2 separate regions of the Homo sapiens genome follow, and region 2 is reported to be linked to region 1. Evidence: microRNA targets listed by miRTarBase, many of them from high-throughput screens and not tested one by one. Region 1 holds a microRNA gene; the other region holds the end of a gene's coding sequence.
What was found. Region 1 holds the annotated microRNA hsa-miR-4533 (UGGAAGGAGGUUGCCGGACGCU, at 2,529-2,550, opposite strand). A microRNA usually pairs through its seed, bases 2 to 8, with sites in the 3' UTR of a target mRNA and lowers its output. Matches are read on the target gene's strand: a 7mer-m8 pairs with bases 2 to 8, a 7mer-A1 pairs with bases 2 to 7 and ends in A, and an 8mer does both.

Region 1 (4,148 bases):
AAAATGATCATTTATTCTGTTGAATTTCTTCAGAATGAATTCTGGGATAGATCAAACAAAAAAGTTATAAAATAGGAATTATAGATAATGAATGCCTGCTTGTTGCAAAGGAATTTGACTTACTTCACGCATAATTAAAGCAGGTGAGGTCAGGGTTGAGCTTGGGGTGATTTTAGCAGGAATCTCTGTATCCTGTTCATGGAGCAAGAGTAACACTTTGCTTATTTTGTAAGGATTTGTGATTGAAATGACTGACATTAAAAGCCTTTCATTAATATGTCATGGTGAGTAAACATCAGTGTAAGCCAGCAGAATAGTGACCAGTGGCTTCACGTTTTGATCTCCTGAGGTAGAAGTTATTTGTCCCCTCCACTACCTTCTTGAGAATCCTCTGTTGCCTTGGTTGTCTTAGGCTATGACATCAATTTGTGAGTACAGGGCTGTCCCATGTTCTAAGGTTGTTATTTTCCCAAGGAGACTATAGAGCTTGGCCAACTTTAGAACAGCATGTATCTATCCATTTAGGAGGCAGAGCCAGGTGGGGAGGCAGGATGGGTAGGGCGGTTCCGTGAGCATGCAGGGTCCTAACCTACTGGGTAAATTCAATCCTGCAGGTGCTTTCACTTCACCAATGTGAGCAGATTGTAGGTCTAGAGCTGGGGGAGAGAAATAAGGGTGATTTGAAAGGACCCAAAATGTCATTTAGATAGGGGGGTGGGCGCAGAGAAGCTCAGGGAGTTATCCCACAACATAGTCATTATGGTGAATAACAATGTATTGGATACTTGAAAATTGCTAAGAGAGTAGGTAAGTGTTCTCACTAGACACCCACACACAAAGATATATATGTAAAGTAATGCCCATGTCAATCACCTTGGTTTGCTCATCCCACAATGTTATGCATAGATGGAAATACTTTGTCCACTATCAATACATACAACTGTATTTGTCTAAATAAATACAGTAATGGTAAAGAGTCCAGGCTTTTCTGACGTTCAGAGAGATCTGGGTTTGAATCTTGAGCTTACAATATTCAAGTTGTGTAATCTTGAACATAACCTCTCTGACCTTTCGTTTTTTCCCCTGGGATATGGAGACACTGATTCCTGCTGTATAGCATTGATGAGAGGAAGAAGTAAGATGATGAAGGAAAGTGCTTATCACTTTGCTGATGGGAGTAGGGGGAAACTTACTAAAAGACAGCTACTCTTGCAATTCTAATAATCATCAAACCAGATTTCTTCCAAAGTATCAGATGCTTCCTGGGTGTGCTGTGCCCTGCTGACCTTAGAAAATATGAATATCATTTCAGATTGCTGGTGACATTGAAGACACCACGGTGCACAGCACAGGAGCGCCACACAATCTTCCAGAGTCATGCGTGGGTCTGGCTGAGGCAGCCATACAGAAGGCAAACCTCCGCTCCAGCACTTCTGCCCAACTCGGCCATGCTGGGGCAGGCAGTGCTGAGACCTCAGAGCAGCTGCCATGACAGCACCTGAGGAGCACAGGAGGAGTACCTGGGTGCGAGTCCAGAGGCTGCCCCTTAGGCCAGGACCCTCTCGGGCACGTTTCCTCATTCGTGCAGCAGGGAGAGCTCAGGGGCCCACATCACAGGGCTGTCTTAACTAGGGTGCTGGGATGCATGTGGAGGGCTTTGCACTGTGTTGGTAAAAGTACAAGATCATTCAAATAAGCACTGCCATTGTTGTAAAAATCCTTAAAGTTGCTCTGAAGCCTTTCAGAAATGCTGGCAAAGCAGCAAGCCCCTAAGCCTCTGAAATTCCTTTTCTCCATTAACCAGCTTGGAGGGGCTGCAACATGGATGATGGAAGAGGGAGTGTCATGCAGTCACAGGGCCCTTTCTCCTGGGCAGGACGGGGAGAATGCCGGGGATGCCTGGCTGGCCGTCACAGCCTGGGATGCTGCCTCTGGAAAAGATGCAAGTCATGGGCTTCAGATGCTGAGAACAGCTGACTGTGGCCTCCTTTGAATCGCTTTGGTCCCAACTCCAACGTGAGTGATAAGATGCTCTAAAGCTCTTGGCATCCAGGGACTCTCTCATCGACAAACAACGGAACCCCCAGCTCAAAGTGCCTGAAACACCAGGGCAGTTATCTGCCTAGTCCTCCTGGAAGTCCAGCAGGTGGGCACGCTTCACATCTGACATCATCTGCCCGTACCGGCTCCACCTCCCACAGGGCTGCATGTGCAGCCTCCACCAGCAAGACACTCAGCCACAGCATCTCTGTGCCTAAACAAGCAGCACAGTCAAAAGCAGAGAGTGAACGTGACCTTGTGCCAAAACTCAGGCACCTTCTTGTCTGATGAATTCTCACTGCTAACCTTTCCTTATCGCTGTTTGACCTGCAGAGATCTTTTTTGCATTTTCTAAACCAAGGCCACCATTGGAACTAGCATGGTCAGCTTCCCCGGCAGCACAGAGACCTCAGGCCTGGGGACCAAACACACGACGGAGCTGTGTCAGGAGAGAGAGAAAGGGAAGTGGACGCTGGAAGGCAGCCAGCAGCGTCCGGCAACCTCCTTCCACATTCTCATGACGAGTTTCGTGTTCGGATTGCAGGTAGTTCAAAGCAAGGGGCTGCTTTCTTCAACTAAGTCATTTTAAATTAAGTCCATAAAGTGAATATAAATGTTTTATTTCATTGTGACAGGCTGTCAGTAAACTTAAGGAGTAAATTTGATGGCGGATTTTTTGTTGTTGTTGTTCTTATATATTTTTTGGCATCTCCTCACAGAAGCATAAACAATTCTCTTTGTACTGGCCCCATACAGCCTTTTTCCAAGGGAAATCTAACATCTAGAGGCACACAGGATTTTCAGCCCTAGCAAAACAACTCCAGCATCCTCACCGTACATCAAAGAGAGACAGCCTGGTTCTCATGGCCAGGAAGGTTAGTCACAATATTACGAAAAGTAACGATTAAGTGCTACACAGTAGATGGAGGCCCTGGAAATTCATCACCCAACAAACAAAACACTTTTAATTGTCAGACTTTTCTCTATGCTTCCTAAATAGGAGTTAGTCCTAGAGAGCTGTGGTCTGGGGAGAGGAGTAGGCAGAGATGGGCAGGGTTTAAGAATCACAGTGGCTTATGCCTGTAAGCCCAGTAGTTTGGGAGGCCAAGGTGGGAGGATTGCTTGAGCTCAGGAGTTGAAGGCCAGCCTGGGCAACATAGGGAGACCCCTGTCTCTATAAAAAAAAGAAAAAAATTTAGCCAGGCCTGGTAGCACATGCCTGTAGTCCCAGCTAGTCCAGAGGGTGAGGTGGGAGGATTGCTTGAGCCCTGGAGGTTGAGGCTATCTATAGTGAGCTGTTATGGAGTCACTGCTCTCTAGCCTGGGAGACAGAGTGAGATCCCATTTCAAAAGAAAAAGAAGGTGTTTTACAGAGGTTCCTCACTTTCTTTTAGAGAAACACTGACATTTCAGAAGTTGTTCAGAAAACATTTCAGGGAGGAGACACAGGAAATGCCCAGGTATACTGTAAGAGAGGCTTCCCACTGAAACTTACATGGCACTACGTGACCAGGCTCTGTGGCCTGATTCCATGTCCAGCAAGGCTGGGTGCTGACTCATCCCTGCCATGGATGTATACCTTGAAGAGATGCCATCAGAAATCTGGCCACCTTTTTTAAAGGAGATACCACTTGGCTTGGATTATAACCCACAGAACAGGCTTCAGGGCTAGTGCCCTCAAAGCCAGTCTCTCAGAGCCCCAAGGTGCTCCTCCATCCCCAGTGCCCCTCCCATCTGCTCCCACTTAGCACCTCAGTTGCCTCTGCCAACTGTCCATGCCTTCTTCAAATGTTCTCCGTCCTTGGCATCTACACCCTGGTACCCGTCTCAGTGCCTCTGTGAACACAGACACAGCTGAACAGCATCATGTTCATGCTCTAGGCTCCCCTTGATGCCAGACTCTCGGATTCCATCTCTGCCTCTCTAATCAGAGAGGCTCTCTCCTGCCTCTGCTTAGCCTTCTCCTCATCCTCAGGTGACACCAGCCCCCTTACCTTCCATTGTTTGCATGTCTGCTCTCCCATTGATCACAACGGCCTTGAAGGTGCAAGCTCAATCTGTTTCTCACAGGCCCAGTGTGCTGGAGTAGAGTTAACCCATATGTGTTT
Region 2 (4,000 bases), not on the chromosome of region 1:
GGTTCAAGCGATTCTCCTGCCTCAGCCTCCTGCGTAGCTGGGACTATAGGCACGTACCACCATGCCCAGCTGATTTTTGTATTTTTTAGTAGAGACAGGGTTTTACCATGTTGGCCAGGATGGTCTCTATCTCTTGACCTTAGGATCTGCCCGCCTAGGCCTCCCAAAGTGATGGGATTACAGGTGTGAGCCACAGCACCTGGCCAGTACATGTTTTTTATGAGTGCCGGTTCTTACGGTATGTTCACGTAGAGACTGAAGGCTATAAAAACTTTCCTTACCACTAGAACATGTAATTGGTAGCCTTTCAGAGATTTATCCGTATTACGGTTCTTGATTTGTAGACGTATATATAACATTCACCTAATGTTTTGTGTTCTTTTTTCCCTGCAGATGCTGTACCCCTCAAGGATTTAAACTAACGAAAAATCAATAAATAAATGTGGATTTGTGCTCTTGTATTTTTAAGTGGATTAAAAAACTTACTACCTTAAATTGATTTGCTACATGCTTAAAATGATAGAGGTTGCTCAGCATTTTTGGAGTACAAGGGGGTCAGAGAGACATGTGATGAAAATTACAGGGCGAGTACAGAGATTTAGAAGGGAACGGGTTTTAATGCGAGTATCTTTGACAGAGTCTTGCTCTGTTGCCCATGCTGGAGTGTAGTGGTGCTCGCTGCAGCCTCACATTCAAAGGCTCAAGCAATCCTCCCTTGGCCTTTGAAGTAGCTGGGACCACAGGCTCATGCCACCATCCCTGGGTCATTTTTAAATTTTTTGTAGAGAGGGTCTGACTCTTGCCTATGCTGGCTTCAAACTCCTGGGCTCAAGCAATCCTCCTTCCTTGGCCTCTCCTGAAGTGCTGGGATACAGTTATGAGCCACCACACCTGCCAAGTGCTTTGTGATACTATGCATTTGTTCAATGCAGATTGGGAAACTTAAAATTTGAATGGAGATTATGTTGATGGGCTTTGGCAGTTCATTTGGATAGACTGGGATGAGAAGCTCTTGGGACTTGTGACTGGACAAAGCATTCCAGTATATTAAAATAAAATTAAGCCATATTACTCCACTCATAAAAAGCAATCCTATGGTAGGTACATGGAGGTTGGGAATAGTGCACGGAAAGGTGGCAGCTTTCTTTGGCTTCATGTTTTAATCTGGTAAAGTTCAAGATTGCACTTTAAGCAGGCCTCCTAAATATTTTAGATTTCTTGGGGATATGCTAAAATAAAACAACTAAGGCATCAGTTTTGCTGTATGGTTTTTTTTTTTTTTTTGAAGACAAGGTCTTGTTTTGTTGCTTGGGCTGGAGTGCAGTGGCGTGATTACAGCTTACTGCAACCTCAACCTCAACCTCCTCGGCTCAGGCAAACCTCCTGCCTCAGCCTCCTAAATAGCTGGGGCCACAGGCATGTGCAGCCACAACCAGTTAACTTTTTAGTTATTTGTGGAGATGGGCCTCACTATGTTGCCCAGGTAGTACTACATTTCTAACTGATGCAGTAACAGTCTTTTTGTCTGCCCCCTGAGGGTTACTGATCTCTACAGCACAGGTAGTTTTTTAAATTAACATCTTTAAATTGCACTGAAAATGTCAACAAGAAACTGGGAGTTTGCCACCTAAGCCCTTTTGCAGTTTTGCAGCGTGTATGGGTTCTCTTGTCTATGCTGCAAAAGAATTAACATGCTGGAAATGTATTAGGATAAGAGGGTGAAAGAAAGGATTGGGTAGGAAAAGCACACTGGCTGTTGTGTTATTTGGTCTTCCATCTCCTGGAGACAGGACTGAGAAGGAAAGTTTTTGTAGTAAGGGAAAAGAGTGGGAATACTGTCCAGCTTTCCCACTTCCCCTTCCTCCAGTAACATCCTGTTACAAATCTGCTAACCTACAAAGAGGGTAGTGAGATATACTGACCCAAGAGAAAGCAAGACGCCCTCCCCCAGAGGTCCCTCTGTCACACTGGCAGTTCTAAGAAAGGTTTGGTCAGTCCAATGGTGGTATGCAAGCCAAAGCTGCCATTGTTGGAGTCCCGTGCTTCGTGGACATGGGCTTGTGTTAGTACTCTGCCAGGCTCATTTATTAGGATTGTGGTGGTTTTTTTTTTTTTTTTTTTGAGACAGTCTTGCTCTGTCGTCTAGGCTGGAGTGCAGTGGCGCAATCTTGGCTCACTGCACGCTCCGCCTCCCGGGTTCACGCCATTCTGTCTCAGCCTCCCAGGATTGTGGTTTTAAGGCAAACAAAGTGCACTGATGCTGTATTCACCAGAAGTGAGCAGTACTTCAAGGCCGGAAGTTGGAAGTTGTATATTAGAATGCTAATGAAATTGAACTTGGGAATTACGCAGTCAGCGCGAGGAAGTGCTGATCTTGGACACCCACTCCAAAAGGCCAACATAAGCTAAAAGTACCTACTGTGTTCATTGTGCCAGTTAAGTAGATGTGATCAGTAGTACTCGGGGTATTCAGGGATAGAGGCATGTAGGTATACTGGCTGCGTAACATAAAACCGTAAAGTGTAGAGGAAGAAATAGGGCGGCATCTCAAAGAGGAAATGGCAGGAAGATTTTAGGAACACAAGTGGCTGACTGGAAAGTCCAGAAAACTAAAATGCCACATGAGAGGTCTCCTGTACTGAACTGAGGATCTTAGGCTTAAGATTGTTCTTGAGTGTAATACAACGTCACTGAAGAACTTGATTCACAGGAAATTTTAAAATTTACTCATTTGAGACAGGGTTTCTGTTGCCCAGCCTGTAGTGCAGTGGTGTGATCATAGCTCACTGCACCTTTGAACTTCTAGGCTCAGACAATCCCCTGCCCACAACCTCCAGAGAATCTGGTGCATGCCAGGCACGTCCAGCCAATTAAAATGTTTTTTCGGGGTCCCAGGCTGGTCTCGATTCCTGGCCTCAAGTGATCCCCCTGCCTTGTTCTCCTAAAGTACTGGGATTACAGATATGAGCCACCAGCTCAGATTATTTCAAATCCCAATGGCATCCCAGCATAAACAAGGGAAAATTAGGTGGGCTTTTCAGTCTCAAATGGAGAATTCTAACATGTTTCTGGCTTTGGGGGCTGGATGGATAATGGTGCATTTACAAAGTTGGGGAATCAGGAGATGGTTTTGTGGGAGGAGCTAAAGTTGAATTTGAGGAAGCTGTAAGATGTTAACCTGTGGACATATCCATGAAGACAGATGGGTATTTCAGGTCTGGGTTAGGCATATGGAGAAGTGGATGGTATTCTGAGTGGAACAGACACACGGTAAGTGGTAGGCATCTGAGCAAAGCGGGGGAAAACAAACGGTTGAGACTTTAACTCGAGTAACTTACATGTGCAATGGCAAATGAGACTCAAAAGCAAATACATGCTCTTCCTTACTGAGATGATGCAGCATTTGTAAATAATAAATGTATGTTTTTATGTTTTTCTCCTCCCATATGGAAATTAAGTCAAAAGTACTCAAGTCACCGTTGCCAAAGGAGGAGTCCTGTGGTTTACAGGAAAGGGCTTGCGTGGCTGGTAACTTGTCCACTACACCATTGAAACAGCTTTGCCTCCTGGCTGGGCGCGGTGGCTCACGCCTGTAATCCCAACACTTTGGGAGGCGGAGGCGGGCGGATCACCTGAGGTCATGAGGTTGAGACCAGCCTGGCCAACGTGGTGAAACTACGTCTCTACTAAAAACATAAAAATTGGCCGGGCGTGGTGGCGGGTGCCTGTAATCCCGGCTACTCGGGAGGCTGAGGCAGGGGAATAGCTTGATCCCGGGAGGCAGAGGTTGCATTGAGCCGAGATTGTGTCACTGCACTCCAGCCTGGGCGACGAGTGAAACTCCGTCTCAAAAAAAAAAGAAACAGCCTTTCCTCAGCATAACACTATTGTTACAGCCAGGAGCTTAGGATGACTGGTTCCATTCTTTATTCACAATAGCAATTTATTTGTGGTATTGTAGTGGAAAGGGCACGTTTCCTAAGTTACAAATGTGGTTTGG

Region 2: the mRNA of RPL35A is a reported target of hsa-miR-4533. Seed matches in the 3' UTR shown: 7mer-m8 at 840-846.

Annotation. Positions count from the first base shown.
Region 1 is chr20:60,476,521-60,480,668 of GRCh38, reverse strand. MIR4533 (microRNA 4533) reads right to left here and starts at 2,558; the gene lies at 2,488-2,558. It overlaps LOC124904944 (a long non-coding RNA gene), which reads right to left. Exons shown (of 2, transcript XR_007067683.1): 2 at 1-4,148.
Region 2 is chr3:197,955,357-197,959,356 of GRCh38, forward strand. RPL35A (ribosomal protein L35a) reads left to right here. Exons shown (of 5, transcript NM_000996.4): 5 at 394-1,254. The coding sequence ends at 417. All of the region lies in intron 2 of DRC9 (dynein regulatory complex subunit 9), which reads right to left. Among named protein-coding and RNA genes, the nearest start is that of DRC9, 2.6 kb to the right of the region's middle. RefSeq lists an enhancer at 3,638-4,000.